Homo sapiens: one gene and its partners. The protein of the gene in region 1 interacts with the protein of each later gene in a pairwise test. Each region holds a gene or a part of one and is shown in the gene's direction. Other genes may lie near its edges. The genes, in order: ARK2N, MORC3, SUMO1 and RNF4.

Region 1 (8,203 bases):
ATTTTTCTTTATTATCCTTAAGTTGAGTGAATACAAATTTTTTTTGAGATGGAGTTTTGCCCTTTCACCCAGGCTGAACTGCAGTGTCAGGATATCTGCTCACAGCAACCTCTGCCTCCTGGGTTCAAGTGATTCTCCTGCCTCAGCCTCCCGAGTAGCTGGGATTACAGGCGCGTGCCACCACACCCAGCTAATTTTTTATATTTTTGGTAGAGACGAAGTTTCACCCTGTTGGCCAGGCTGGTCTTGAACTCCTGACCTCAAGTGATCGCCCACCTTGGCCTCCCAAAGTGCTAGGATTACAGAGGTGAGCCACTGAGCCCAGCCCAGTGAATATAAATTTTATTGGTTTTATTTATTTTAGTTTGGTTTATTTATTTTGATTTCTTGGTCATCAGATTAAATAAATCTGATAGTTATTTTTCTTTAGTTGTCAATTTCCAGTCTTGGTTTTGAGTTTGACTGTTGTCATGATACTCTTCTGAATCCTTTTAGCCTTTACCTGTACCTCTTTTCCTTACTTTTTCAGAACTCTTATGATTCCACTTAAAGAAGCAGTGTTTTTTACTTCTGTGTGGGCAGCTTCTCTCAGCAGAAGTGGGATTGATGTTCAGTCAGTCAGTTTTCACACTCAGCCTACAGGGCCTTGTAAAAGTAAGGAGCAGGAGCAGGGTGAAACTAAAAAGTAATCTTGCTTTTTTAAAGTTATCTTTTTTTTTTTTTTTTTGAGACGGAGTTTCGCTCTTGTTGCCCAGGCTGGAGTGCAATGGCGCCATCTCCGCTCACCGCAACCTCCGCCTCCTGGGTTCAAGCGATTCTCCTGCCTCAGCCTCCCGAGTAGCTGGGATTACAGTCATGTGCTGCCACGCCTGCCTAATTTTGTATTTCTAGTAGAGAAGGGGTTTCTCCATGTTAGTCAGGCTGGTCTCAAACTCCCGACCTCAGGTAATCTGCCCGCCTTGGCCTCCCAAAGTGCTGGGATTACAGGTGTGAGCCACTGCGCCCGGCCTAAAGTTCTCTTCTATATTCCTGAACTGCTAGGAGAGGAAACTATGTGATCTATGTGTTATACAGATTTATCGGAACATATTTGTAGCAGCTGATAATAGTAAATGTGATTTTAAAATACTTTAAAGTAGCCAATATAACTGAGATTTGATAAGTTGTTTGATTAGTTGTTAGGAATTTTGGCTTTAATTTACAGTGTTTTAAGTTTTGTTTCTGTTCTCTTTCATGTCTGTTCAAAATAAGGGACCTCATTCCTCTTTGCTCAGACTCTGCCACTTAATAGGTAGATGGTGTAAATTCCTAAATTATTAACTTGACTTTAAATAATTTTAAAACCTACCTAAATGAGTATTTTCTAGTTAAGTGACAATTAATCTAAAGTGGAAATCTATCAGCAGGGACTTAATGCATATGTGGTATTTATACCTGGTTAAATTAAAAACCCATTTACTGAGCATTTACATGCCAGGTGGTAATGGGCACATAAAATAAGCAGTTTGGGGCAGGGCACGGTGGCTCACGCCTGTAATCCCAGCACTTTGGGAGGCCGAGGCGGGCGGATCACCTGAAGTTCGGAGTTTGAGACCAGCCTGACCAACTTGGAGAAACACTGTCTCTACTAAAAATACAAAATTAGTTGGGCATGGTGGCGCATGCCTGTAATCCCAGCTACCCAGGAGGCTGAGGCAGGAGAATCTCTTGAACCTGGGAGGCAGCTGTGGTGAGCCAAGATTGTGCCATTGCACTCCAGCCTGGGCAACAAGAGGGAAACTCTGTCTCAAAAAAAAAAACAACAATAAAAACAAAACAAGCAAGCAGTCTCTGCCCACAGAACTCAACCTAGTGAACCAGATGATTTCTGAGTTTCCTTCCTGCTCTAAAATGTGGAGAAGAGAAAGTAGATTATAAGGGAAAAAAGTACTGCATAACAAAACAACTGTAGTATGGAACTAGTGTTTTCCCTTATAAATTCATTTTAAATAAGGTATTAGAAAATAGCATTTTTCTTGGTATCTCTAAGCTTTAAAAGGCTGGAAACTTAAATGTCGTTTTTTGGGCTGGGCATGGTAACTCACGCCTGTAATCCCAGCACTTTGGGAAGCCGAGGCAGGTGGATCACAAGATCAGGAGTTCGAAACCAGCCTAGCCAACATGATGAAACCGTGTCTCTACTAAAAATACAAAAATCAGATGGGTGTGGTGGTGCACGCCTGTAATCCCAGCTACTTGGGAGGCTGAGGCAGGAGAATTGCTTGAATCTGGGAGGTGAAAGTTGCAGTGAGCAGGGATCATGCCATTGCACTCCAGCTCTGGGCAACAGAGCAAGACTCCCTCTCGGGAGGTGGGGGGGGAAATGTCGTTTTTTTGTAATGCCAGTTCATTTACAAAATACATTTGCTTGTAATTCAAGTTCATGTATTAAGTTCTGATTGTTGTTCAGAGAGAAACAACATTAAATCTGTTAAAACTTAGAGCAGCCATTCCTAAGAATGTATATAACCTAGAATTGTGCCAGGCATGGTGGCTTATGCCTGTAATCCCAGCACTTTGGGAGGCTGAGGCGGCGGATCATGAGGTCAGGAGATCGAGACCATCCTGGCTAACGTGGTGAAACCCCGTCTCTACTAAAAATACAAAAAATTAGCCAGACGTGGTGGCGGGCACCTGTAGTCCCAGCTACTCGGGAGGTTTGAGGCAGGAGAATGGCATGAACCCAGGAGGAGGAGCTTGCAGTGAGCCAAGATCGCGCCACTGCACTCCAGCCTGGGCGACAGAGCGAGACTCCGTCTCAAAAAAAAACAAAAAACTAGAATTGTGCTTGGGTAGTCTAGAAATTAAGTTTATTTTGATTGATTGATTGATTGATTGAGATGGGGTCTTACTATGTTGGCCAGGCTGGTCTCCAACTCCTGGGCCCAAGTGATCCTCCCATTTCAGCCTCTCATAGTGCTGGGATTACAGATGTGAGCCACTGTGCCTGGCTGAAATTAAGTTTTTATTAGCATAATTAGCATTAGAGAAACAAGATACTGACCAAAGTGACCAGTAGAAGTTATTTTTTTACTGAGTTGACTAGTTTAAAAAAATGACCTTTACAATAATGTCTGGAGTCTGCATTTTGTTAGGTGCCTTATAATTAGAGAAAGGTATTGTCGGGGATAGGGAAGTTGGGTGTGGACTAAAATTTAAGGAAAACAGGATTGTTTTTCTTTCTGTATTAAGAACAAAAACTTCATGTGGTTAAAATTTTAAGCAGTATCCTGTCTGCCTTAGTTTTAACCTAGCATAGAATCATAGCTTGTTCTTAAATCAACAGTTTAGTGTCAAGGGTTTCTTACTATTTTTCTCTGCTGAAATCAACTAAGCACTTTGCAGTGAGCCTGAAGGTGTGTATAGTGGAGAGAATTTTGGCAGCTTTTATCTTGGGACCTCAGTTCCTGGCATGTGGTTATCCATCTTTATGTGAATTGTCTTCTGAAGGAGATAGAAAATGACCAGGGCAGAAATCTTGGAGAAAATTTAGAACCTTTGTTTTAGGGCCAGGCATGGTAGCTCACACCTGTAATCTCAGCACCTTGGGAGGCAGAGTTGGGAGGGTAGCTTGAGCCCAGGAGTTTTAGACCAGCCGGGGCAACAAAGTGAAACCCTGTCTCTATTAAAAAATTATTTTTAAAAATTAAAAGAACCTCTGTTTTAAATTATTCTTGATTTACACTGATGATGCTTTTGAGTACTTTAGAGAGTCATTAGCCACAGTGCTTTTTTTTTTTTTTTTTTTTTGCATTTGATAACTTCTTTGGCTTCTTACTTGATGCTAGTTTATTCACAGCCCTGGTGCAGGTCCAGGTACATGCCAGAAGTAGTAATATCTGCAATATGAAGTGATTTGAGCAGCCATTATCACCTTTGACCTATTTATAGAGTTTATATCAGTGGAGAAAAAGTTGGCTGGCAAGCAAGCAAAGCTGATCTCTGGTGGTTGCAATCTCACAATTTATATTTAAGTTCCGGGTAGGCCAAATTCAGTGCATTATGGACAGATCCATTCAGCTGTATTAATATTAGAGTTCCCTTTCTGTACTCTAACTTTTTAGCACTCCAGTTTCCCAGTCAGCTTCACTGTTGAAGGAAAGAAAACCGAAAAACTTACCACACTAAAAAAAAAAAGGAAGAGTTCCTTAATGTAATATGATAGTCAGTGTTCAGATTTCCCTCTTATCTCATAAATGTGTCAGATCAAGAGCCAAATAAGGTCTCTGCATTGTTTTGTAATCTGTAGGTTCCCCCTCCATTTCTTTTCCCTAGCAGATTATTAGTTACAAAAGAAGTTTTCCCAGTGTGGATTTAGCAGTTACATTCCTTTGGATTTCTGTGGTGGTGGTGGTAAACGTTTTTCTCTGACCCCTGGGTTTCTAGTTAATTGGTATTAGATTTAGAAGCTTGATCAGATTGTTTCTATAATATATATTCTTTCTCTTGCTTCTTTTGCAGGGGATGAGGGGAATACTTTATAGATGGTACTTGGATCAGTAGGTGCATAATATTTGGTTCCCTGTGATGTTAGTAGCTGTTGGTGATCGTTGCCCAGTTGTGTTAATTTGTTACTCATAATTCCTTACTCTGAATGGGGCATCCTCTCTCATCAGTCCTAGTTTGAGTCTTTTATGCTTGTTTATAGCTTCTTCAAACTTTTCTTTCTTTTGAGGATTAAGGGAAGGGATGAGTTGCTGTGGAGAAAAGGGCTCTTTCTACTATATTGTATTTCTGTAAGTGTTTTTTATTTTAGTCCTAATCTTTGGTTCTTGCATTGTCTGCATTGTCTATGCTGCAGCTTCTTGGTGGGAAAACTGACTCAAAATCCCAGCAAATAATTGAAAGAAGTCCTTCAAAACCAAATTTTTAAAAAAATTTTTTTCTGAGTTAGAGTCTTGCTCTGTCGCCCAGGCTGGAGTGCAGTGGCGCGATCTCAGCTCACTGCAACCTCCGTCTCCCGGGTTCAAGCGATTCTCCTGCCTCAGCCTCCTGAGTAGCTAGGATTACAGGTGTGTGCCACCATGCCTGGCTAATTTTTGTATTTTATTTTTGAGACGGAGCCTCACAGTGTCACCCGGGCTGGTGTGCAGTGGCATGATCTCAGCTACTTGCAACCTCTGCCTCCTGGGTTCAAGCGATTTTCCTGCCTCAGCCTCCTGAGTAGCTAGGATTACAGGTGCCTACCACCACGCTTGGCTAATTTTTGGTATTTTTAGTAGAGACGGGGTTTCACTAGGTTGGCCAGGCTGGTCTCGAACTCCTGACCTCGTGATCTGCCTGCCTTGGCCTCCCAAAGTGCTGGGATTACAGGTGTAAGCCACTGCGCCCAGCAGTTTTTGTATTTTTAATAGAGACGGGGTTTCAGCATGTTGGCTAGGCTGGTCTCGAATTCCTGACCTTGTGATCTGCCTGCCTCGGCCTCCCAAAGTGCTGGGATGACAGGCGTGAGCTACTGCGCCCGGCCTCGAAAACCAAAATTTATGGCCAGGTGTTGTGGCTCACACTTGTCATCTCAGCACTTTGGGAGGCCAAGGTGGGCAGATGGCTTAAATACAGGAGTTTGAGACCAGACTGGGTAACATAGTGAAACTCCGTCTCTCCTAAAAATACAAAAATTAGCCTGGCTTGGTGGCATGCGGCTGTAGTCCCAGCTACTCAGGAAGCTGAGGTGGGAGAATCACCTGAGCCTAGGAAGGTAAGGCTGCAATGAGCTGTGATTGTGCCACTACACTCCAGCCTGGGTGATAGAAGTGAGACCCTGTCTCTAACAACAACAACAACAACAACAAAGATTTAGGAAGATGAGTATTATGAATGCAATGGAGTCTCTTCATAGAATTGAATGTGTAAGGAGAGGGGCCTTCATTTGAATTTTAGTAAGATACTGCTTTCTACCTCATTTTGTGGTTATGTAGCCAAAGATACTTAGTTTCATAGTGCCTGATTCTTGCATATTTGCGTATACACACACAATCACTTTAAATGCAGTATTCTAAATGTAAGGAAACAGCTTTACTAGGCTATTAGCAGTTGAGTCAGTTTTTGTCTTAGGTTTTATGTAGAAAGAAAAGGGAAGTTACTCTGTGAGAAATCATGTTGATTCTATGTAATGGAATGTATTTTCATATACAAATGAATAGTACTTTTAAGCAAACAAGTTGTTTCATTAGTGGTCTTGGTTTAAAAGATTCAGTTGATCAATTCAACAAATATCAGATATTGATTATGTGTTAGGAACTGTGAGTGAACTGATACTGAACATGATCCCTGTTTTCATGGGAGATGCAACATAGAGGGCTGAGGGAGTAAGTAAAAACATTTAGGTGCATAATTTGTTTCTTTTCAGTTGTCTTTCTCATAGTGTGCTATTTATTCTCCTCCCTCATGTATAAAGTTAACTCTTAACTTCTTGGGCTTAAATTTCCTCTGATAGCTCTGTGTGTGCACATGTGCCACAGTCAGAAAAATCAGGTAATAATTGTTAGGTGTTAATTTTCTTGGATGATTACTAGTATTGTGATTGTCTTCCACCATTGTCATAGCTCTCTACTGTGCTAGCCAACTTGTCTAACTGAAATAACTTTTAAGTCTTTTTGTGACAATTGCTAAAGCCAGCAGGAAGTAGGTCCACAATAATGTTTGAAAGCCCTGCTTCATTCTAGTTTTATCTTCATGCATTGCAATTTGTCTCTTGTTTTCCAGTCTGCATATTCCCTATCCTCAATTCTTGTTTAAAAAACCAGGTAAGGCCGGGCGTGGTGGCTCATGCCTGTAATCCCAGTACTTTGTGAGGCCTAGGCGGGCAGATCACTTGAGGTCAGGAGTTTGAGACCAGCCTGGCCAACATGATGAAACCCCGACTCTACTAAAAATACAAAAATTAGCTGGGCTTGCTGGCTTACACTGGTAATCTCAGCTACTCAGGAGGCTGAGGAAGGAGAATCGCTTGAACCCAGGAGGTGGAGGTTTCTGTGAGCTGAGATCGTGCCACTGCACTGCAGCCTGGGCAGCTTGAGTGAGACCCTGTCTCAAAGAATAAAAATAAAAAAACAGGCAAAACTTCGAAAATACCTTAAGTTGGGCATTTTGGACAGGGAGGGGGGGCATTTTTTTGAAGTGTTTAGGTATAGAATAGGCAAACTTTCACAAAGAGCTAGGAGTGTTTTTATTTTATTATTTTTATTGATTGATTTAAAAGTTTATGGAGAGTGGTTTTTAAAGATGGACAGCTGATTATCATGAATTTTTTTTTTTTTTGAGACAAAGTCTTGCTCTGTCGCCAGGCTGGAGTGCAGTGGTGCTATCTCGGCTCACTGCAGCCTCCACCTCCCAGGTTCAAGCGATTCTCCTGCCTCAGCCTCCCGAGTGGTTGGGACTACAGGTGCACGCCACTATGCCCACCTAATTTTTGTATTTTTAGTAGAGATTGGGTTTCACCATGTCGGCCAGGATGGTCTCAATCTCTTGACCTCATGATTCTCCTGCCTTGGTCTCCCAAAGTGGTGGGATTACAGGAGTGAGCCACCGCACCCAACTGGTGATTTTTTTTTTTTTTTTTTTTTTTTGAGACGGAGTCTCGCTCTGTTGCCCAGGCTGGAGTGCAGTGGCGGGATCTCGGCTCACTACAAGCTCCACCTTCCGGGTTCACACCATTCTCCTGCCTTAGCCTCTCGAGTAGCTGAGACTACAGGCGCCCGCCACCACGCCCAGCTAATTTTGTTTTTGTACTTTTAGTAGAGAGGGGGTTTCACTGTGTTAGCCAGGATGGTTTTGAACTCCTGACCTCGTGATCCGCCCACCTCGGCCTCCCAAAGTGCTGGGATTACAGGCGTGAGCCCCCGTGCCCGGCCGAATTTTGTTTTTTTAACCTTACTCCCAACTATTAAAGAACTTACTACTACTTTTTTTTTTTTTTAGATGGAGTTTCTCTCTTGTTGCCCAGGCTGGAGTGCAGTGGTATGATCTAGGCTCACTGCAACCTCTGCCTCCCGGATTCAAGTGATTCTGCTGTCTCAGCCTCCCGAGTTGCTGGGATTACAGACATGCGTCATCATGACTGGCAAATTTTGTGTTTTTGTTAGAGACGGGGTTTCTCCATGTTGGTCAGACTGGTCTCGAACTCCAGACCTCAGGCGATCCGCCCGCCTTGGCCTCCCAAAGT
Region 2 (7,171 bases), on another chromosome or scaffold:
CAGAATGATTGTATTGGTATGCAAAGTGTGGTTTCTATAGAATGCATATAACTTTCACACCATCATAAAGCTGGAAAATCATAAAGTCAAACCGTTGTAAGTCAGGGACCATCTGTTTATAAAAAGCATAAACTCATTATTGTAACTTAATTATAAGCTGATGAGTATGCAAGAAATAAAAACCACTGTGACATTAACATAATTTAGGCATTAGTATCTTGGTTTTTCTGTTTTGTTTTGTTTTGTTTTTTTTTTTTTTTGAGATGGAACTTCGCTCTTGTTGCCCAGGCTGGAGTGCAATGGCGTGATCTCAGCTCACCGCAACCTCCACCTCCTGGGTTCAAGCAGTTCTCCTGCCTCAGCCTCCCGAGTAGCTGAGATTACAGGCGGCTGCCATCACACCCAGCTAATTTTGTATTTTTTGTAGAGATGGGGTTTCTCCATTTTGGTCAGGCTGGTCTTAAACTCCTGATCTCAGGTGATCTGCCCACCTCAGCCTCCCAAAGTGCTGGGATTATAGGCGTGAGCCACCATGCCCGGCTGGTTTTTCATTTTCTAGGTACCACTTTTTTTTTTAAATCAAGTGGTAATATGTTGTATTCTCTCAGTGTAAAAAGATGTAGAAGTGAAGCTGTAAACGAATGAAGCCTTGTTTATAGAAAACTACTGGTTTTTCTTTGTGTATTTGTTTTTTGATAGTTGATAATGTTATCAAGCAGGTTCTCTATATTAGCTTGAAATTTCACTTTGCCATTAGTATTTTTAAGTTTTACAGTTATAAAGCTCATTTATATTTTTGTTAGGTTGAATTGCTGGAAATGGAAAAGTCACAAATCCGTTCACAGTGTGAAGAACTCAAAACTGAAGTAGAACAGTTAAAATCTACAAATCAACAGACGGCAACAGATGTTTCAACATCAAGTAACATTGAGGAGTCTGTAAATCATATGGATGGAGAAAGGTAATATTAAATGAGGCGTTTTTGTGGGGCTGCAATTATGGTTAGGATACTATTTATTTTTATCTGCTAGCACCCATCAAATAGATACTGTTCTGTCAAAAGAAGTTATTGATGGTCTGCTGTGACCCTGGTGTTATGATAGATAAAAAAGAAGTGACACTTCATTATCCTTCCTTTCCAGTTTCTGACCCTTTAGGTTCTATTTAAGTGGAATAGGAATTTAGAAGGGATAAAGCATTTGATTGGTCAGAGTGGTTTTAGAATGCTTTTTGAAGGAAAATAAAAATGGACAAGATATTGAAGAATAGGGGGAATTTGGCCATGAGTAGAAGACAGGAGACTTTTACTGAAACTCACTCCTTCAACCTGTTTTTCTTTTATTGTCGTACTTGGTACCATGTCTTTATGGCTTGCTGTCCTTATTTCACTGTATGCTCACTCTAATCTTTTAGGAAATTGCAAAATTATTAAAAATTGCCATAGTACAGATGATATTAGGAAGAAGTCCTATTAAAACAAGTAGATAGGCCAGGCGTGGTGGCTCACACCTATAATTCTAGCACTTTGGGAGGCTGAGTTGGGCGGATCACCTGAGGTCAGGAGTTCAAGACCAGCCTGGCCAACATGGTGAAACCCTGTCTCTACTAAAAGTACAAAAATTAGCCGGGCGTGGTGGCAGGCGCCTGTAGTCCCAGCTACTCGGGAGGCTCAGGCAGGAGAATCGCTTGAACCTAGGAGGTGGAGGTTGCAGTGAGCCGAGATTGCGCCACTGCACTCCAGCCTGGGTGACAGAGCAAGACTCTGTCTTAAAACCAAGCGTGGTGCCTCATGCTTGTAATCCCAGCACTTTGGGAGGCCAAGATGGGTGGATCACTTGAGGTCAGGAGTTCGAGACCAGCCTGACCAACATGGTGAAACCCCGTCTCTACTAAAAATACAAAATTAGCTTGGCATGGTGGTGCACACCTGTAACCCCAGCTACTTGGGAGGCTGAGGCAGGAGAATCGCTTGAACCTGGGAGAAGGAGGTTGCAGTGAGCCAAGATCGCGCCATCACGCTGTGGCCTTGGCAACAAGAGCAAAACTCCGTCTCAAAAAAAAAAAAAGCTGGTATGGGAACGATTAAAGTATTATCAAAGGTCTAGTGGACTCTTACCATAAAAGCTCACAAAAAAACATGCTCAAAATCACATTCTCCGCATTATCAGACTAAGGAAGAACATCTTGATCCCTTCATAGATTTCCACTCGAGAAAAATCAGTATCTAAATTAAATATGGACTTATTATATTGTAGTGGGGTAGGGAACAAGAACAACTGTAACACTCATTTTATGTGTTTGCCATAATATTTGAAGCAAAAGCTGCCTTACAGTTTAGGTGTTTATTGCTTAAATACTTTTGGGCATTTTTTAAAAAGTCTAGAATGTTGATATTCATAAACTTGGAAGGCATAATTATCTTAATCTATGGTTTCCCAGTGTTTTCAGCAAACCATTGTTCTCTGTAAATGCACGGTAACTTAAGCATGTAATAGGATCAGAGCAGTCCTACAATTATTATTATTATTATTTTTTTGGAGACAGAGTCTTGATCTGATGCCCAGGCTGGAGTACAGTTGCATAATCTCGGCTCACTGCAACCTCTGCCTCCCAGGTTCAAGCAATTCTCCTGCCTCAGCCTCACCAGTAGCTGGGACTATAGGTGTGCGCCACCACGCCCAGCTACATTTTGTATTTTTAGGGAGAGACGGGGTTTCACCATGTTGATCAGGCTGGTCTTGAACTCCTGACCTCAGGCGATCTGCCCGCCTCAGCCTCCCAAAGTGCTGGGATTACAGGCGTGAACCTCTGTGCCCGGCGTAAAAAAAAAGCTGCTTTAACATTGTTTAACACAATGTTTTGCAAGCTTATTTGACCACAGAACCTTTTATTACCTCTTACACAACTATGGATATCTTATAGAACATGTTTTAGATAATTCTGGCTAAGCATGGTGGTTCATGCCTGTAATCCCAGCACTCTGAGGTGGGCAGAATGCTTGATTGAGCCCAGGAGTTTGAGACCAGCCTGGGCAATATAGTGAAACCCCATTGCTACAAATAATAATAATAAAAATTAACCGGGCATGGTGGTGTGGGCCTGTGCTTCCAGCTACTCAGGAGGCTGAGGTGGGAGAATTGCGTGAACCCTGGAGAGCAGTGGTGCCATCGCAGCTCACTGCAGCCTTGACCTCCTGGGCTCAGGTGATCCCCCACCTCACCCTCTTGAGAAGCTGAGACTACAGGTGTCGTCACCAAGCCCGGCTAATATTTTGTGTTTTTAGTAGAGTCAGGGTTTCACCATGTTGGCCAGGCTGGTCTCGAACTCCTGGGCTCCAGCGATCTCCCTCCTCGGCTTCACAAATGCTGGGAATACAGGCATGGGCAAGTGCACCTGACTCATAAAAGTGAATTATTAAAGTAAATTGAGTTCTCTAGGGGAGGTTTTGCTTTTCCTTTTGTTTAATTGTATATTATTCTACGGAGATTTGATTTTGATATTTTACTTTTTAAGGTCTACATGAATCTTAACTTGTAATGCTCATCTAATAAGTTACATATTTGTATTTGCAGCCTCAAACTCCGATCTCTTCGAGTTAACGTAGGACAACTGCTGGCTATGATTGTGCCTGATCTTGATCTTCAGCAAGTGAATTACGATGTTGATGTAGTTGATGAGATTTTAGGACAAGTTGTTGAACAAATGAGTGAAATCAGTAGTACTTAAAGTATATGTTATGTAAGATAAAATATTTGCTCAATTCTTTTGGTTGTACAGCTTTCAAAATATAATTAATTTTGTTTTATAGATATGATAGGCAACAGACTGAAAACCATAATCTTTACTGTATTCTATGCATTCAAATGTGGTCACAAATATTGTGGACACATTATCTTATGTTTTGAAATACCTGTGAATTGTTGGCATTGAGCAGCTGAAGCTAACTCATGACTCTGTTTTGAATGTAAATATTTGTAATTAAGCCTGCACATATTTTTTTATTGCCCTAGAGTACTCAAGTGTTTTTCACCAAGAGCTTTTCAGGTTGCCCCTAAGCTTTGTGCAATTTTTTCTGGTTCCCCAAAGTGTATTTTTCTCTAAGTCGAGGGCTATGCCATAATACAAATGGAAATGTTACCTTTGATTTTCTTATAAAGGAGTTTAAATAGGATTTTTAAATAATGTAGTAACACTCCTGATACAACTCTGGTTATAAGTGAATTGAGCATTAATGTTTCTTTTGTATAAATTCCTGTCCTGAAATATTTTATTCATGAAAATAAGGTAAGCAAAAACCAACTCCATTTTGCCAGGATTTTGTTGTGCTGAGATTGCCAATCACGGTTAAACACAAAGTGTTTTTATAGAATGAAGAAACAGTCTTTAACAGAAAAAAGGTATTGAAATATTAAATGGCCACCAAGTTTACTTTGAAGCCCATTTTTGGCTGTTTAGTCAGCATGAAGTGGGCATGATAATTTTTTAATATTTCTTTTTGTGAAATTTCCTGTACAGCCTTTTGTAGGATTACTACAGGTTAATGTGAGTTGAGGAAGACAGTCTTTCTCAAACAATACTACATACCTTTTATTATATTACAAACCTAAGTGTTTTATATCCTAGAGTCAAGGAACAAATTTCCTTAGGATTATAGTATTACATGCCATAAAATACTATGCTTTATTGGTCCCATGTTTTGTGCAATTTTAAAGAGATGGCTTTCTATTAAGTATAAACTATGTATATATAAGAACCATATTTTCCACAACTAAAATGTGCATTATTTTTTCCAAAGTTTTATCATTGCTATTTATTTTTACCTTTGTTTTTGAACATTCAATCCGTTCATTTTGTATGTATGCTTAATACGTGTCGGTCATATACAGTATTGAATTTTTACTGTATAGTAATTCTGGAAAGAGCAAATAAATGAAGATTGTTTTTATTTGCCTGATAAAGTAATTGAAAGTGTATTTTTGGTATGAAGCTGGTTTTCTGTCACAATTGTAATTTCCCAAATTTTAAAATATCTTATAATAAAATAAAAATATATGATGGCTAACTGTTCAAATGCTACTTTTAAAGACTTAATATTAACCTCAAATTATTTTAAAACTAAAAATGTATTCATTAGACCCTCAACTTGAGCTCATTTTAACTACTTTAATTGCAGTTTATTTTTTGAAGACTGTTTCCATTAAGACTGAGGCTGAGCTCCTCTTTCCTCAGAGCATGTATATTCTGTTTTCAAAAGCTTTTTCTCAGCCTGGCGCAGTGGCTCACGCCTGTAATCCCAGCACTTTGGGAGGCCGAGGCGGGCGGATCACCTGAGGTCGGGAGTTCAAGACCAGCCTGACTAACATGGAGAAATGCCGTCTCTGCTAAAAATACAAAATTAGCCGGGTGTGGTGATGCATGCCTGTAATCCCAGCTACTCAGGAGGCTGAGGCAGGAGAATCACTTGAACCTGGGAGGTGGAGGTTGCAGCGAGCCGAGATCACACCATTGCACTCCAGCCTGGGCAACAAGAGCGAAACTCCGTCTCAAAAAAAAAGGACTTTTCTTTGTATAAATCATTTACTCTAGAGAAACCTTGCCTAAATAATAGCAGCTATGTAAATCATATGTAAGTTTTGTGAATATCTAACTCATGCAGTGGTTCTTTTTGGAATTTGCTATTTTTCCCTTCCTTTTGGCCAGCTTCTCTATGTATTCTTGCAAAAATATTTCCTGTAGCTGTCTGGCTTGATGGGAAAATTAATCATGGGATTAGTAAGAGAAACTTGCTTGCTAAATTGATTCTTTGGAAGCACTTAGATACTTTTTGCTCTTTATGAAGATATTGAAGTATTGCCAAGATATGAGACTTCGAAAATGTGGCTCACAGTTGCAGACAGAACAACTGTTGTTTAACAGAACAACGTGGGCTTTCATGATGTATGTACCTTTCTCTTTCTTTTGTTGCATGTGGGGGACAGTATTGCTTCAACTAATGTTTATTACTTTAAAACACGAAAGGTATGAGGAAGTAAACCAAAACAGTCCACAGTCTTCAAACAGGACCTAGGGTGGCAAAATCAGTGAAAGCTGAGTGAGCACACAGAGCAGGAGGGCATGGCACGTCCCTGTGTGCTTCCTTTGGGCCTCAAATTCTTCATGTGGCAGGTCCAGTTGGTGACGCTGCCTGTGATCTCAGACGCTTGATTCTTGCTGTCACATGAGACGTCTTAAACTTGGGTCATACATCATTGAGGAATCATTTAAGTTCTCACCTCTGGCTGCGTAGTAGAATTACTTGGGGAGTTTTTTAAACTCCCAAAGTCAGGCTGCACCTCACGTTAATTAAGTCAGCGTCCTTGGGGTTAGACCCAGATAACAGTATTTTTCAAGGCCTCCCGGGTTAATTCCAGTGCACCATCAGAGCCAAGCACTGTTGAGTTGTGTCTTCTGTTGAGTATTTATAAATGTTGAACTTGAGTGGTTCACGAAACAAACGGGATCAGCATATCCACTTTCTCACTGGGGCAAGCAGGGGGAGGGAGGGGAAGCAGAGCGGTGCCCCGGTAGAGATGTAAATGAACAGTGAAAAGACTTTCTCCACGGCCTCTAAAGGTAACCACTATTGGCTTTTGTGTGCATACATGCACACATTCATGTGTATGTATTTTATTTACATTAAATTGCGTATATTTGTGTCGATATTTACACAGTGGGATTATACCATATAATTGATAACTAAACATTTCCATATCATTCTTTCAAAAAGCTTAAGTAACATTTCATCATAGGAATATGCTCCTAATGGTTACTTACTTACTTACTTTTCGTTAGAAAGAATATACTGGCTGGGCGCAGTGGCTCGTGCCTGTAATCCCAGCACTTTGGGAGGCCAAGGTGGGTGGATCATGAGGTCAGGAGATCGAGACCATCCTGGCCAACATGGTAAAACCCCATCTCTACTAAAAATACAAAAATTAGCTGGGCGTGGTGGTGGGCTCCTGTAATCCCAGCTACTTGGGAGGCTGAGGCAGGAGAATCACTTAACCCCAGGAGGCAGAGGTTGCAGTGAGCCGAGATCACACCACTGCACTCCAGACTGGTGACAGAGCGAGACTCCGTCTCAAAGTATACTGTGAAGATTAATACATACCACACATGATTTTCCGATTAA
Region 3 (8,203 bases), on another chromosome or scaffold:
TATTGTAATTGGGAATCCAGGAAGAATTATAATTTGTTTTGATTTTGATTTTTAGAAAGAGGAGTTAAAACTGACACAAGAGTTAGAGATAATGATTTAGTTGGGACACTTTCACACTGACGTATCCAAGGATATATTCAGGCACTTGGATAAATGAGTGTGAAACTCATAAAGGTTAGAAGGAATAATTGAGTTATTAGTATCTGTTTTTTTTTTTTTTTTTTTTTTAGACGGAGTCTTGCTCAGTCGCCCAGGCTGGAATGCAGTGGCGCGATCATAGCTCACTGCAGGCTCCGCCTACCGGGTTCACGCCATTCTCCTGCCTCAGCCTTCAGAGTAGCTGGGATTACAGGTGCCCGCCACTACGCCCGACTAACTTTTGTATTTTTAGTAGAGATGGGGTTTCACCGTGTTAGCCAGGATGGTCTTGATCTCCTGACCTCGTGATCCGCCCACCTCGGCCTCCCAAAGTGCTGGGATTACAGGCGTGAGCCACCGCGCCCGGCCGAGTTATTAGTATCTGAGAACTAGTTGGAACCGTGGGTCACCAGGGAGACAGAAAAGCAGAGGATTGAAGACACAGAATTCAGATGAAACCCAGCATTGAAGGAAATTACAGAAATGAGGAGAGAACCTAATCTTGGCAGCCAAAGGTGGAGAGTTTTCAAGGTAAAACTCAATCAGTGTTTGTTTGAGAGAGTTACAGATGAGATTTGAAAGTGTACATTGGATTTAGCAATAAAGAATCCACCTGCTAACCACTGGTGAGAAGAGTGTTAAGTGGAATGATGGGGGCATAAAACCACATTACAGTAGGTTGACAGTGAAAGTGGGGATAGCAAAAGCTGAATACTCTTTACGAAGTTTGATTTTGAAAAAAGGTGATAATTGGCTGGGCGTGGTGGCTCACGCCTGTAATCCCAGCACTTTGGGAGGCCAAGGCGGGCAGATCACAAGGTCAGGAGATTGAGACCATCCTAGCTAATACAGTGAAATCCCATCTCTACTAAAAATACAAAATATTAGCTGGGCGTGGTGGCACGCACCTGTAATCCCAGCTACTCAGGAGGCTGAGGCAGGAGAATTGCTTGAATCTGGGAGGTAGAGGTTGCAGTGAGCCGAGATCGCACCACTGCACTCCAGCCTGGGCAGCAGAGCAAGACTCCGTCTCAAAACAACAACAACAACAATAACCACAAAAAGAAACAAAAAAGGGGAGAAAAACGACTAGAGAAGTAAGGTCAAGGGAGAGTATTTTTAAGTTGAAAATAAATGCCATAAAATATATGAATAAATTGCAAGTAGGAGCATTAAAGGAAGATATTAATATCATTTGGAAGGTTGGGGGAGTGCTGTGGTTCATAGACGAGTTTTAAAAAATCCTGGACTTGGCCTTACATGGTGGCTCACGCCTGTAATCCCAGCACTTTGGTAGGCCAAGGTGGGCAGATCATTTGAGGCCAGGAGTTCAAGACCAACCTGGGCCAATGTGATGAAACCCTGTCTCTACTAAAAATACACACACAAAAAATTGCTGGGCATGGTGGTGCATGCCTGTAATCCCAGCTATTCAGGTGGTTGAGGGATGAGAAAATCGCTTGAACCTGAGGTTGCAGTGAGCCGAGATTGTGCCACTGCACTCCAGCCTGAGTGACAGAGCGAGACTCTGTCATAGAAAAGAGAAAAAAAAAAAAGCAGGCCGGGCGTAGTGGCTCAAGCCTGTAATCCCAGCACTTTGGGAGGCTGAGGTGGGTGGATCACCTGAGGTCAGGAGTTCGAGACCAGCCTGGCCAACATAGGGAAACCCCATCTTTACTGAAAATACAAAAATTAGCCGGGCGTGGTGGCACACTCCTGTAATCCCAGCTACTTGGGAGGCTGAGGCAGGAGAATCGCTTGAACCCAGGAGGCAGAGGTTGCAGTGAACCAAGATTGTGCCATTGCATTCCAGCCTGGGCAACAAGAGCGAAAATCTGTCTCAAAAAAAAAAAAAAAGAAAAGAAAAAAAAATACTGAACTTAAGTTCATGTGTGAGGTAGATATCCTTGAGGTGATTTCAAGAGAGGCTGAGAGAGGATATGTATATATATTCCAGGTAAATGAAACTAGGGCCGCAAAGGGCTGAAGTTGAAGTAATGCTAATGGACATATTCAGGGAACAGCAAATAGTCCAATTGAACAGAATCTTTGGGTATGTTGAGTGAATGATGAGAGAAAAATGAGAATTGAGCTTGATGGTGGAAGCAGAGAATGTCATGCTATAGAGTTAGGTTATAGGCCCTAAAGTCCTGGAAGGTATTTATGCTTTTTGATCTGAGTAGTTACAGGATTGGAGAAGCTGGACTTTAGGAGAATTCTGAAGCACTGAGGATGATGGAGGGGAGGAGGGGAAGAATTCTTTTGTGCTGAGTAGCCGCTATAGCTACCCTATCTAGGAGACACAGGAGCAAAGCCACTCATGTTGTGCTGATATATTGCTGCTAGGGGAGGGGGCTGTCCTTTGTGGTAACTTAAACAAAGCTTCTTAAGGCCTCCTCTCCTTCCAGTTACAGAGGACTCAGGGCTTGGTTGCTGTTTATTGCCCTTCACTGCATGGAATAAGCTCTTTGCCTTCTAGATACTTAGAGGAAGAAGCAGCTGTTTACTATGAATATAAATTCATAGAAATGTGGAGAGACTATATTTGAAGACAGTCTTCTAGTTTTCAGGTGAAATACTGTCTCACTAAAGAAGGTTAATTTTGCCTGCTGCTGTAATAGTCAGTAGTCAGCAAATGTTAAAAGCACTGCAGAATGAAAAACAGGCAAGGATTCATACTAATGAAATCAGTTCTGTTATCTAAGCATTTCCCTAGACTCTAGCCTGTATTTTAAAGTTAAAAGCTGCTTCTAGTTTAATATGTTCTTTTAATTGTTGAATGTTAAAGAATTTTGTATTTTAAGTTACTGGCATGAGATACACAGGTAATGGTTATGGTTATTCTTATCAAATACGGATTAACTGCTTGAAATTATTACGGATAATAAGGTATATATCTAAATAAGTGGGTAATTTGGTGGCCAAACTAAGGTGTAGCACATAGAGAAAAAAAGCTACTTTTTTACCACATTATTCATGAAATTTTCCAAGGTACCCCCTTTACTAAAAATGATTTGCTTATTCTTGAGATACTTCATGGTGAAGTTGTTTTAACTAATTTATTCTGTTAACCTCATTTTCATTTCAGTATCTCTTTATTGGAAATTGTTTTGTAACTGTTTTTGTGATCTTTTTTTTTTTTTTTTTGAAGAGATGAGGTCTTGCTATGTTGTCCAGGCTGGCCTCCAACTCCTGGGCTCTCAAGCAGTCCTAGTGCCACAGCCTCTCAAGTATCTTGTCCTCCTATTTTTGTCTCCTCTTTTAAACTTAAGCATTATGCTTCGGATAGTCTAAAATAATTGATTATATAAAACTGATTCGTTTTGACTCCAGAGTACATTAGGCTAATACTTTCTTATTTGATTTTCCTTTCTAAATAGCCTTGCTTGGCTGGGCACTGTGGCTCACGCCTGTAATCCCAGCACTTTGGGAGGCCGAGGTGGGCAGATCACCTGAGGTCGGGAGTTTGAGACCAGCCTGACCAACATGGAGAAACCCTGTCTCTACTAAAAATACAAAATTAGCCGGGTATGGTGGTGCATGCCTGTAGTCCCAGCTACTCGGGAGTCTGAGGCAGGAGAATTGCTTGAACCTGGGAGGCAGAGGTTGCGGTGAGCTGAGATCGAGCCATTGCACTCCAGCCTGGGCAACAAGAGCGAAACTGTCTCAAAAAAATAATAAATAATAGCCTTGCTTATGCTAATATGATTAATTTACATTTCTTAGTACAGTTTTGTAGTTAAAGTAAACTCCTCATGATAGGCTGTGAGAAGATAATCTTGGATTCAGAAGTTTGTCTAAAAATTCATGGAGGATGAACTTCCTTTGTGCTGGTAAGAGCTGGCTGTAGGGCAGTTGTTTCCAAGTTGTTCCTCTGGCCAGTAGTATCGGTACCACCTGGTAATTTGTTAGAAAGAGATTCTTATCCCTACTACAAATGTGCTGAATAAGAAACTGGGTCTTGGGCCCAGCAGTTTGTTTAACACGTCCTTCAGCTGATTTTGATGCGTGGTAAAGTTTTAGACCATTACTATGGGGTATTATAATAAAAGAGACCCCTTTCTTGATTTCTAGTGAATGGCGTTTGGGACAGTAATTGACTTAGGATTTTTTTTTCTTAATTGACTGGCATGGAAAAGAAATGCTGTTTGTATTCTCAGGTGCAGATTTTGCATCCTGAATGAAAGTAATGGATACTCATAAGTGAGTAATTAAAATAGCATGTAGGAACTTTTATCTTGAAATTTAATTTTCTTTCAGGAGGCAAAACCTTCAACTGAGGACTTGGGGGATAAGAAGGAAGGTGAATATATTAAACTCAAAGTCATTGGACAGGTGAGTTTCATTGTTTTTCTCTTTTGAGTCCCCTTCAATGTGAATACTTTTTCACAGGAAAAAAAATTATTTAAGGCAAATTATTTTAAAATGACTATGTATGCATTTTAATTTACTGTGTATGCATCTGTTAGAGGTAGAAGAGGCCGATACTGTTTTTTAAATTACTCTGCCAGGCAGTTTTAGATCATCTTAATTTTTCCAAATAGGAATGTTTTCTTGGTTAGTGTGCTTCAGGGGCAAATACAGTGAATACTATTAAGTGTTAAGGCTAGGGCCAACCTTAAGTAAAAGGTTTATCAGCCCTTTTCCTGACCCTTTTCTGGCCCCCTATTTCCCTAGACTCTAGTCTGTATCTTTTTTTTTTTTGAGATGGAGTCTTGTTCTGTCACCCAGGCTGGAGTGCAGTGGTGCGATCTCGGCTCACTGCAAGCTCCGCCTGCCGGGTTCACGCCATTCTCCTGCCTCAGCCTCCCAAGTAGCTGGGACTACAGGCGCCCGCCACCATGCCCGGCTAATTTTTTTTGTATTTTTAGTAGAGACGGGGTTTCACTGTGTTAGCCAGGGTGGTCTTGATCTCCTGGCCTCGTGATCCGCCAGCCTCGGCCTCCCAAAGTGCTGGGATTACAGGCGTGAGCCACCGCGCCTGGCTCTAGTCTGTATCTTATTGATTCTGAAATGTTAATTAAGGTTAGCTAACAACCGTTGGAGGAATGAATCTACATAGTTACGTGGGTTTTCTAAAGGACAAAAGACAGAGAATTGGTGGAAGGGTGGACTCGCCCAGGATGGAGTGCAGTGGTATTTCTATTGAAGTGTGACAGTACCATTTCCCTATATTCTCCCAAACATGGGATATTAACAGTCTTTAAATTTTGTTCAAATATGCTAGGTAAAACATTTTTGTTTATTTTTCATTTACCTGATTATTAATAAGGTATAATTTTTTTGGTCTGTTACATTTATATTCTTCTGTTAATTGTGTTCATACCCTTTTCCCATTTTTCTGTGATTATCTTATTTTGAAGACTTTTATTTTTTATTTTCAAAATTTTTTAAATTTAAATTTTATTTTGAAATGGAGTTGTGCTCTTGTTGGCAGGCTGGAGTGCAATGGCGTGATCTTGGCTCACTGCACCCTTCACTCCTGGGTTCAGGTGATTCTCCTGCCTCAGCCTCCCGAGTAGCTGGGACTACAGGTGCCTGCCACGAAGCCTGACTAATTTTTTTAAAAAATATTTTTAGTAGAGACGGGGTTTCCCCATGTTGGCCAGGCTGGTCTCGAACTCCTGACCTCAGGTGATCCCCACCCGTCTCGGCCTCCCAGAGTTCTGGGATTACAGGTGTGAGCCACCATGCCGGCTTTATTTTGAAAACTTTTAAAAGATAAAATTCACATACTATAAAATTCACTATTTTAAAGTATATAATTCAGGGGCTTTAGTATTATTCACAAGTGTGTGCAGCCATCACCACTACTAATTCCAGAACATTTGCATTACCCCAAAAAGACACCCTGTACCCATTAGCAGTCATTCCCCATCCTATTTCCTCCAGCCAGTGACAACCATGATTCTACTTTCTGTCTCTATAGGTTTGCCTTTTGTGGACATTACATATAAATGGAATCATAAGATATATGGCTTTTTTTTTTTTTTTTTTTTTTTGAGGCAAGGGTCTCGCTGTGTCACCCAGGCTGGAGTGCAGTGGCCTGATCTCAACTCACTGCGACCTCAACCTCCTGGGTTCAAGCGACCCTCCTGCCATAGCCTCCTGAGTAGCTGGGATTTCAGGTGTGCACCACCATGCCCAGCTAATTTTTGTATTTTTAGTAGAGATGGGGTTTCGCCATGTTGGCCAGGCTGGTCTCAAACTCCTGACCTCAGATGATCCGCCTACCTCGGCCTCCCACAGTGTTGGGATTACAGGCATGAGCCACCATGCCTAGCTTTGATATGTGACTTTTTATTCTGGTTTGTTTCTTCTTTTCTGCCTTGCTTCCCTGTTCCTCTTCCCCTCCCTCCCCTCCCCCCCTCCCCATCCCCGTCTCCCTCTCCAGGGTTCTCGCTATGTTGCTCAGGCTGGTCTTGAACTCTTGGGCTTAAGTGATTCTCCCTCTTTGGCCTAAAGTTCTGGGATTATAGGTGTGAGCCACTATGCCTGGCCTGGCTTCTTTGTTTTAGCATGTTTTCAAGGTTCATTCATGCTGTAGCATGTATCAGTACTATATTCCTTTTAATGGCTGAATTCTGTTCCATTATATGGGTAGAATATATTTTGTTTTCCATTTATCAGTTGATATTTAGTTTGTCCCCATATTTTGGCTACTATTAATAATGTTGCTGTGAACATTCATGTGTGTTTTTGTATGGACATATGTTTTCAGCTCCCTTGGATATATACCTAGGAGTGGAATTGCTGGGTCTAGTATGCAACTATATGTTTTACTTTTTGAGGAACTGCCAAACTGTTTTCAGCAGTGGCCCTACCATCTTACATTCCTAGCAGCAACATATGAGGGTTTCAGTTTTTCCATATTCTGGTCAACACTTGTAATTATCCGTATTTTTGGTTATAATCCTAGTGGGTGTGAAGTGGTATCTCACTGTGGTTTCAACTTGCTCTTTCCTGATGGCTAATGATGCCAAGCATTTTTTTATGTACTTATTGGCCATTAGTACATCTTCTTTGGAAAAATGAAGTTCTTTAGATCTTTTGCCCATTTTTAAATTGGGTTAGTTGTCTTTTTATTGTTGAGTGGTAATATGTCTTTTATTCTGGGTATTAGACCTTTATCATATATATGATTTGCATGGATTTTCTCCTATCTTTGAGTTGTCTTTTCACTTTCTTGGTTTTATTCTTTGCAGCGTAAAGTTTTTAATTTTGGTAAATTAAGTTCATCTGTTTTTTCTTTTGTTGCTTGTAATTTATCTAAGAAACCATTACCTAATCCAGGGTCACAAAGGTTTACGCTTGTGGTTTAAGAGTTTTAAGGCTGGGCACAATGGCTCACACCTGTAATCTCAGCATTTTGGGAGGCCAAGGTGGGCAGATTGCTTGAGCTCAGGAGCTGGAGACCAGCCTGGGCAACATGGCGAAACCCCATCTCTACAAAAAATATAAAAAATTAGTAGGGCGTGGTGGCACATGCCTGTAGTCCCAGCTACTCAGGAGGCTGAGCAGGGAGAATCACTTGAGCCTGGGAGGTCAAGGCTGCAGTAAGCTGTGATCACGTGACTGTACTCCAGTCTGGGTGACAGAGTGAGACCCTGTCTCAAAAAAAAAAAAAAAAAAGTTTTATGGTTTTATTTATAGTTTTAGCTCTTACATTTAAATCTTTCATCATTTTGAATAATTTTTTATGGGTGTTTGTCCCAGACCATTAGTTGAAAAGACTGTCCTTTTCTCACTGAATTGTTCTGGTATCCTTGTCAAAAAATTGACTATAGATATAAGGGTTTTTTCTTGGCTCTCAATTTTATGCCATTGATCTATCTATATGTCCATATGCCATGGAATGTCTTTTTAAGAATTATTAATTTGTGGGATTTTTAAAAATATTGTCTTCATTTTCCTTGTCTGTTACATGTTATGAATATTTCCTCCAGTATGTCTTAACTTTTGTTTATGGCATCTTTTACTATACAGACGTTTTATGTTTTTATTAAGTCAAATTTATCCACCTCTTTTTTTTATGGTTTCTAGGTTAAAATCATGCTTTGCAATA
Region 4 (8,203 bases), on another chromosome or scaffold:
ACGTCTAGGATCCTGGCTGCACGGGAGTCAGAGTAGAGGATTAGAGCTTCTTGTCACTGTAGGGCAGGATGTCCTGCCCAGGGGACAGGCAGGGTGAGGTGAGCAGTAGGGCTTTGGTGGTGAGAACTTTCCTGAAACAGCCCCTCCTACGTGCTCAGCAAGAGGGAAAGGGCGTTCCACTGGCCCCCCTAGATGGGTAAGAGCACTTGGCCAGAAGGTGGGAGGAACCACGTTTGAAACTGTTGGAGCAGAAATTGTCTAGATGTAAGTTCTGAGCTGGCAGGTGAGAGGCTTGTCAGGTTCTTAGGCCCCCAGGACAGAGAATTGGATTGTGTTCAATCCTTGGTGTGTGTCACACGCATTGGTCATGCATAGCCTGCTTTTCTCTGTTAGTTACTTGTAACAACCTACTGAGCAATGCAAATCCTCCTCCACATGAAGGCTCCACCTTGGCAGTGGCCTACATTGGTCGCGTCAGCTTGAGAGAGCATCATGCCCCTAGTGCTGTCTAAATGTTCACTGCCTCACGTAACCCTCACAACAGCACAGTCAGATGTGGGCTCTGGTGACTCTGCTTCAGAAGAGAAAGCTGCAGCCCCCAGATAGTAAGTAAGGTCCCCAGGTCTTGCAGTCAGCACATGGTGTGGCTGTGGCAGCCCCCAGATAGTAAGGAAGGTCCCCAGGTCTTGCAGTCAGCACATGGTGTGGCTGTGGCAGCCCCCAGATAGTAAGGAAGGTCCCCAGGTCTTGCAGTCAGCACATGGTGTGGCTGTGGCAGCCCCCAGATAGTAAGGAAGGTCCCCAGGTCTTGCAGTCAGCACATGGTGTGGCTGTGGCAGCCCCCAGATAGTAAGGAAGGTCCCCAGGTCTTGCAGTCAGCACATGGTGTGGCTGTGGCAGCCCCCAGATAGTAAGGAAGGTCCCCAGGTCTTGCAGTCAGCACATGGTGTGGCTGTGGCAGCCCCCAGATAGTAAGGAAGGTCCCCAGGTCTTGCAGTCAGCACATGGTGTGGCTGTGGCAGCCCCCAGATAGTAAGGAAGGTCCCCAGGTCTTGCAGTCAGCACATGGTGTGGCTGTGGCTGTGTTCACGCTCCAGGAGACTCCACTAAACACCCAGCAGGGAGAGACACAGCACATCAGCTGGGAGGTGGAGTGACTTGGGAAGTGGGCTTGACTGACTGGGAGAGGTGCACAGATCCTCTGTGGGTGGGAGGAGGGTGGGGCCTCTGCTGCTCACCAGAGGGTTCCACAGAGGGTGTCACACGTCAGAAAAAAGAAATGGCTTCGTTTATCACTTATATCAAACTGATTGCTTCTTTCTCTTTTGTTTTTCTCCTTCTGTTTACAAGATTGTTGACGGTGAGTGGTTTCGTTTCCTTTTTCACTGGGTTTGGAGAGGAAACTGGCATAGGTGAGAGCCGCGGTGCTGCAGGTCTTGCCAGACCATCCCCAAGGGCTTGGAGCGCTCCAAGCAGGAAGATGCCTTCGCAGATGCTGTGGTCAGACCCACACAGCCAGTCCCCCTTGTGCCTGCTGAAGAAACTTCACCACTATCATTGAGCACTGAGCTATAGTCCTTTCTTGTGGCCTACCAGATTTTGGAGAAGGCTGGTAGCTCACAGCAGGGGTTGGGGGGTTTCTCCTGGGAAGATAAGATAGTGGCCTCCAGAGCTGGGCAGAACCTTCTGGGTTATAGCTGAGCATGGCAGCAGTTTGTCTCTGGGGGTCCCAGGCAGGGAAGGAAGAGGGTCTTAAGAGGCGTCAGGATGGGAGTGGTGAGGATGGTAAGAGTAGAGAGCCTCCAACCTGAAAATGTGACCTCTTACCTTAGAAAGAAGAAGACCAAGGAGGAATGCTAGGAGGCTGCCCCAGGACCATGCTGACAGCTGTGTGGTGAGCAGTGACGATGAGGAGTTGTCCAGGGACAGAGACGTATATGTGACTACCCATACTCCCAGAAACGCCAGGGATGAGGGCGCTACAGGCCTCAGGTACCAACGTGCCCCCAGCTCTGCTGCCGCCATGCTAGGATGTGGGGCCAGGGCATGGGAATACTTTTCAGCAAATCTGTGAGCCCTTGGCCCTGGAAGGGCTTGCCCAAGCCTCTACCCAGCATCTGGATACAGTTGGAACTGGGTCCAGAACTGAGTCCAGCTATTCCCACTGTAACCAGAGGATGCCAAGCGCTGACACAGTGTGTGCAGACAGTCCCAGTGGCCCCAGACAGGGATCCTGGGGCTGGTAGGGGCCTGGGGGAGGGCAGGGTGACTCAGGTTGTGTGCACCTTCTCATGTTCACCCTCCCACATGCCCTTGGGGCAGTTGGCTTTCCTGAAAGTCTCTCGGATGCCCGCGCTAAGGCAGAGTCAGGAGGCCAGGGACGGGACTCTTGTAGGGGATAGGGGCCACTCACGTGACAGGGTATAATAAAATGTTTGCGTTGACTGAGAAACTAACGTGAAGCACTGTGCTCTTAGGCCCTCAGGTACTGTCAGTTGTCCCATCTGCATGGACGGATACTCAGAGGTAAGTAAACCAAGCTGTATCTTCCAGGCTTCTGGTTTCTAAACTTCACTGAAAGAATTGGATGAGACAGGATCTTCCCCCTCGGTGGGATTGGACACCCCTACTCACAGTCATGCCTGGGCCGTCACTTATTGCAGATCTGCCTGTGAGGGGAGAATGTGCCAGTTTCTCCTTGGACCCTACAACTTTCACCTTCAGCCCCTATACTCCTGTATGCCCTGAGCTTCCGGGTGCAAATGCGTCCTCCTTTTTTGTGCCCCATCCTGGCTCTAACTGAAAGCTGCTAGTGTTTACTGGGGTCCCTCATAACCCTCTTGGGCTGTCACACTGTTGAGATGCCATGGCCCCTGCCTCCTGCTCTCCAGCTGAGAGAGACCACAGCAGACACAGTTAGCTCTCCAGACCCCTCCCTGTTGTAGCCTGGCCCTTGCTTTCCTTTAATTAGTCATCTTAGGCATAGGTGGGTGGGATTCTCTGGCCCCATGGCTGCTCTGGGACAAGGGCAAACTCGGAGGCTCTTCTTTTTAATGCCTTCTAGATCGTGCAGAATGGACGTCTCATCGTTTCCACAGAATGCGGCCATGTCTTCTGTAGCCAGTGCCTCCGTGATTCCCTGAAGAATGCTAATACTTGCCCAACTTGTAGGAAAAAGATCAACCACAAACGGTACCACCCCATTTATATATGAAGTATTCAGAGCCCCCCAGGAGAGACGGATGGACAGACAGACAGCCAGGTTCTCCAGTGGTATCTGCCTCCATTTTCCTGAGATCAAAAAGACTGTTTCGAAACCAACATCTGATATGTAAACTGCTCTTTTGTTTCCAACCCCTTCCTTTTGTTATCTCCAGTTTGATGCTATGGCGCTGGACCCAGGGCCCTCCCAGGCCATCTCTGTTCCTCTGGGGTGGTCCAGTTCTAGAGTGGGAGAAAGGGAGTCAGGCGCATTGGGAATCGTGGTTCCAGTCTGGTTGCAGAATCTGCACATTTGCCAAGAAATTTTCCCTGTTTGGAAAGTTTGCCCCAGCTTTCCCGGGCACACCACCTTTTGTCCCAAGTGTCTGCCGGTCGACCAATCTGCCTGCCACACATTGACCAAGCCAGACCCGGTTCACCCAGCTCGAGGATCCCAGGTTGAAGAGTGGCCCCTTGAGGCCCTGGAAAGACCAATCACTGGACTTCTTCCCTTGAGAGTCAGAGGTCACCCGTGATTCTGCCTGCACCTTATCATTGATCTGCAGTGATTTCTGCAAATCAAGAGAAACTCTGCAGGGCACTCCCCTGTTTCCTAAGAACGAAAAAGTGCAATAAAGGCCATTCGTTACCTACTTTTCAGCAGCCCACAAGATGTAGCACTATTAGTGTCCCCCTCAGAGGCTTAATGTTGCCTGTGGAGCAGTGCCCATCCCAGCCCGTTTCTGCCCACCAGTTGTTCTCAGGAACCTTACCCATGCTCCAGCGTCCTTCACCTGGCACAGGACATGCAAGATAAATAGGGCAGGCACGTGTTTGGGTGTCCTCTCTTTTCTGATAAAATCCATCCCGTGTTTGCCACACGCCCTCCAGTCCTCAGTTCCCACTGCCTAACGTCTGCCCCCGTGTAGATACTGAGAGGTGGTGGCAGTAATTGTGGCCTTATCAGCCGCTCAGTTCCAGGCTTTTGCCCAGGTCACTGTTGCCCCATGTTCGGAGAACCTGGCCCACCTGTCTTGGCTTTCTCATCCTTCCCAACCCAGTGCCGTTTATTTCAGAAGCTTCCTGGCCACTGGGCTTGGATGCTTCGGGCTTCTGACTGCTCCATAGGTTTTGACTGGTGAAACAGGGGCCCAGATGACAACCTCTCCTTCGCTCCACAGGTACGCGGGAGCCTCAGGTTCTCTCAGGGGCAGCAAAGTGGCCCAAGCTGCCCCTGACAGCACAGGGCCTGGGGGGTGGCTAACGAGAGAGGCCTTACAGTGCCGGCATGCCTCCTCTTCCACTGTCGTCCTTCCTCAGAGGGCCTCACGCCAAACAAACGGCCTTTTCGTGTGAAACATCTTCAGGGCGGGAAAGGGGCCACTTCTGGCTTTGTTAGCAATAACTGACCTTCAGTTTACCCTTCTGAAGGAGCAGGGACTCAGCACAGAATTCACTTTAGACGGGGCTGAAGGAGTGTCCCTCCTCTATGTGAAAAGAAAATTGTTTTATTCTTCATTCTGACTTTTTAACTGTTTGGCTCACTTCCAGTTAGTTTGAATGAAAATAATAATTTTCTACTTGGAGTTGAAGAGGGCAGAATCCGCAGCTCTCATCATTGTGATGTGTAGCATGTCTGCCCTCTGACTGGACATCATTGCCATTAACTTTCTTCTGGGCATCACGGCAATGTCACGATGCCCAGACTTGGAGCAAGGCAACCTTGGAGTCAGTCCACTCATAAAATATGGTAACACCCATTTTAAAATTTAAGTTTTGTCCTTAAAGACAACTTCAGTGGTTAATTATAAAAGTTGTGTTACTTCGTCCTAAATTAAATTGATAGAAAGATTTAAAAATGTGTTTTGTTTCTACTATTCAGAAACTGCGAACTAGGGAAAGGTTGGTATGAAGAAATGTCTTTCCTTTTTTCAATGTACATAGTTCAACTCTTTCTTTGTTACATTTAAACTATATCCATGGATATCAGTCTGCTTTGGACTCCTCTGCTAGTGTTACAGATGGAAATAAAACCATTAATTTGAACCAAATATCTTTTACACATTCATTTGCTCTTTGGAATCAATTTCCCCCCTTTTTGCCAAGGTGCGGGGTTCTTATCTGCCTCACGTTGAGTGTATTTTGCATTGGTGTGTGTTCAGGAAGTTTCCATGTCCTAAATCCAGCAAGCATGTGAGAGGCTGTTCTTGGAGCACAGCCACAAGCCCAAGCCCTGGAGTCCCTAAGAGAGCAGAGTCTACTCTGAGAGGCAAGGTTGACCAAGGAGCTGTCTGCTCAGCTCGGCCAGTCTCTCAGAGGTGCTGGGGGTGCTGCTCTGAGTGGGATGGACTGAGATTGCCCTGGAAACCTTGCACTGCAGCACCCCCCTTTGCCCCTGACCACCTAGATACAAAATTTGCCCTCTGAGTGGGAGTCAGCACTGGGAGTGCATGGATATGCCAGCCACTGCCACAGGCGAGCAGTGCCAGCAAAGCCACAAGGAGGGAATGGGCTTGGCAGTGTGGCCAAGCTCTCCCTTTGCCTCTGCCCTCTGTACCTATCCAGCTGTCCCCAGGGACTAGAAAGGCTAACATGCTGGCTGCCTGGGTCCCAAAGGCCTACCATCCAGTGCAGTTTGCTTACCATGCTCCTGGCACTGCACTTTTGGCTCTGTGGGCAGTGAGACAGACATCATGGAACATGTTTACAGAGGAGACAGTCCCCCAGGCCACTGGAAAATTGAAACTGATGAGGGTGGGGTACGGGAAACCAGGAGATCCAGCAGGAAGAAGTTGAAGCTGTCCAGAAAGCTCTCTCTGAATAAGGGCTGCTAAGTTGCCATCTTCAAGGTCCAGAAAGCTCTCTAGGGAAAGAGGAAAGAATTCCAGAGACCCCAGGCCAGGCCTGTGAAAGTTATGAGAAAGAGCTTCTTGCTGGCATACAGTAGGGTCTGCAGGCTCCCCGATACCTAAAGGCATTGGACCAGACACTTCTGGTGGCTACCCAGGGCCTGGCAGTTCTTTACCCCAGGAGCAAGCCTAGGGGAGGCAGGGAGCAGTGTATCCCTAAGACTGGTACTGCTGGAGTGGGTCTGGTCCTGGAAAGGAGGGAGCCCCCAAGGCTGGCTATAGAAACTCAAAAGATGTCTGTATTAACTTTTTCGGTGGGGGGGTGGTTTTGTTTTGTTTTGGCAGCATAGAAACAATTGATTCTCTATATTGTGTATCCAGAATCCTTGCTATTTTTTTTTTTTTCCTAAGACGGAGTCTGGCTCTGTCGCCCAGGCTGGAGTGCAGTGGCTCGATCTCAGCTCACTGCAACCTCCGCCTCCCAGGTTCAAGCGATTCTCCTGCCTCAGCCACCCAACCAGCTGGGATTACAGGGACGTGCCACCATGTCCAGCTAATTTTTGTAGTTTTCGTAGATACGGGCTTTCACCATGTTGGCCAGGCTGGTCTCAAACTCCTGATCTCAAGTGATCCGCCCGCCTCGGCCTCCCAAAGTGTTGGGATTACAGGCGTGAGTCACCACTCCCAGCCCCAACTCTATTTTTTTTTTCTTTTTTCTTTTTTTCTATTTTTGTAGAGACGGGGGTCTCATCACGTTGCCCATCCTGGTCTTTAACTCCTCGCCTCAGGCGATACTCCTACCTCAGCCTCCCAAAGGTGCTGGAATTAAAAGTGTGCGCCACCGCGCCCAGCCTAGCCCAGTACATTATTATTACACACAAATGGTGTTTGTGTTTTAGTGTTTCATCAAGAAAGATGTTTGCTGTAGGTTCTAGTTAGATAACTGTCAGATGAGGGAGGTTCATTTTCCTACCATGAGATAAGCATTTATCTTTTTTTTTTTTTTTTTGAGACGGAGTTTCACTCATCGCCCAGGCTGGAGTGCAGTGGTGCAATCTCTGCTCACTGCAGTCTCCGCCTCCTGGGTTCAAGCAATTCTCCAGCCTCAGCCTCCCGAGTAGCTGGGATTACAGGCATGCACCACCATGCCCGGCTAATTTTTGTATTTTTAGTAGAAACGGGATTTTACCATGTTGGCCAGGCTGCCCTCAAACTCCTGACCTCAGGTGATCCGCCTGCCTCGGCCTCCTCAAAAGTGCTGGGATTACAGGCATGAGCCATGACACCTAGTGGCATTTGTCTTCAATTTCTGTTTTTTGTTTTTGTTTTTTTTTAACGAGACAGATTCTTGCTCTGTTGCCAAGGCTGGAGTGCAGTGGCACAATCTCGGCTTACTGCAACCTCCACCTCGGGGTTCAAGCGATTCTCCTGCCTCAGCCTCCTGAGTAGCTAGGCATGCACCAGCACGCCTGGCTAGTTTTTGTATTTTTAGTAGAGACAGGGTTTCTCTATTTTTGTTTTTGGTCACAAGTGAATGTTCAATCTTACCAGTCCTTTTTCTGCTTCTATTGAGACAAGATTTGTTTGCCTCTCTAATCAGTTAATGTATTGGGTAACATAGTTATATGTTGTTTAACTACAGGGATATGTTCTTTTTTTTTTTTTTTTTTTTTTTTTTTTTTTTTTTTTCCAGAGACAGATTTTCACTCTGTCACCCAGGCTGGAATGCAGTGGCATGATCTCAGCTCACTGCAGCCTTCACCTCCCACATACAAGCGATTCTCCTGCCTCAGCCTCCAGAGTATAGCTAGGATTACAGGTGTGCACCACCATGCCCAGCTAATTTTTTCTGTTTCTAGTAGAGACAGAGTTTCACCATGTTGGCCAGGCTGGTCTCGAACTCCTGACTGCAAGTGATCCACCCACCTCAGCCTGCCAAAGTGCTGGGATTACAAGCGTGAGCCACTGCGCCCCACCTTACAGGGATATGTTCTGAGAAATGTGTTGTTAAGCTGGGCTCTGTGGCTCACGCCTGTAATCCCAGCACTTGGGGAGGCCGAGGTGGGTGGATCACGAGGTCAGGAGTTCAAGACCAGCCTGGCCAAGATGGTGAAACCCGTCTCTACTAAAAATACAAAAGTAGCTGGGTACGG

The links.
Region 2: the proteins of ARK2N (region 1) and MORC3 interact in a two-hybrid assay, tested with the Homo sapiens proteins (one large-scale study listed by BioGRID and IntAct).
Region 3: the proteins of ARK2N (region 1) and SUMO1 interact in binary tests that used the Homo sapiens proteins (3 or more experiments, as listed by UniProt).
Region 4: the proteins of ARK2N (region 1) and RNF4 interact in binary tests that used the Homo sapiens proteins (3 or more experiments, as listed by UniProt).

What each region holds. Positions count from the first base shown.
Region 1 is NC_000018.10:46,178,916-46,187,118, forward strand, and holds part of ARK2N (protein ARK2N), read left to right. Parts: intron 1-8,203. UniProt on the Homo sapiens protein: AMPK substrate important for exercise capacity and skeletal muscle function.
Region 2 is NC_000021.9:36,371,571-36,378,741, forward strand, and holds the end of MORC3 (MORC family CW-type zinc finger protein 3), read left to right. Parts: intron 1-803; coding exon 804-961; intron 962-3,572; coding exon 3,573-3,726; 3' UTR 3,727-5,062; downstream 5,063-7,171.
Region 3 is NC_000002.12:202,216,302-202,224,504, reverse strand, and holds part of SUMO1 (small ubiquitin-related modifier 1 isoform a precursor), read left to right. Parts: intron 1-4,398; coding exon 4,399-4,473; intron 4,474-8,203. UniProt on the Homo sapiens protein: Ubiquitin-like protein that can be covalently attached to proteins as a monomer or a lysine-linked polymer.
Region 4 is NC_000004.12:2,510,606-2,518,808, forward strand, and holds the end of RNF4 (E3 ubiquitin-protein ligase RNF4), read left to right. Parts: intron 1-1,350; coding exon 1,351-1,360; intron 1,361-1,832; coding exon 1,833-1,992; intron 1,993-2,477; coding exon 2,478-2,526; intron 2,527-3,064; coding exon 3,065-3,214; 3' UTR 3,215-5,252; downstream 5,253-8,203. UniProt on the Homo sapiens protein: E3 ubiquitin-protein ligase which binds polysumoylated chains covalently attached to proteins and mediates 'Lys-6'-, 'Lys-11'-, 'Lys-48'- and 'Lys-63'-linked polyubiquitination of those substrates and their subsequent targeting to the proteasome for degradation.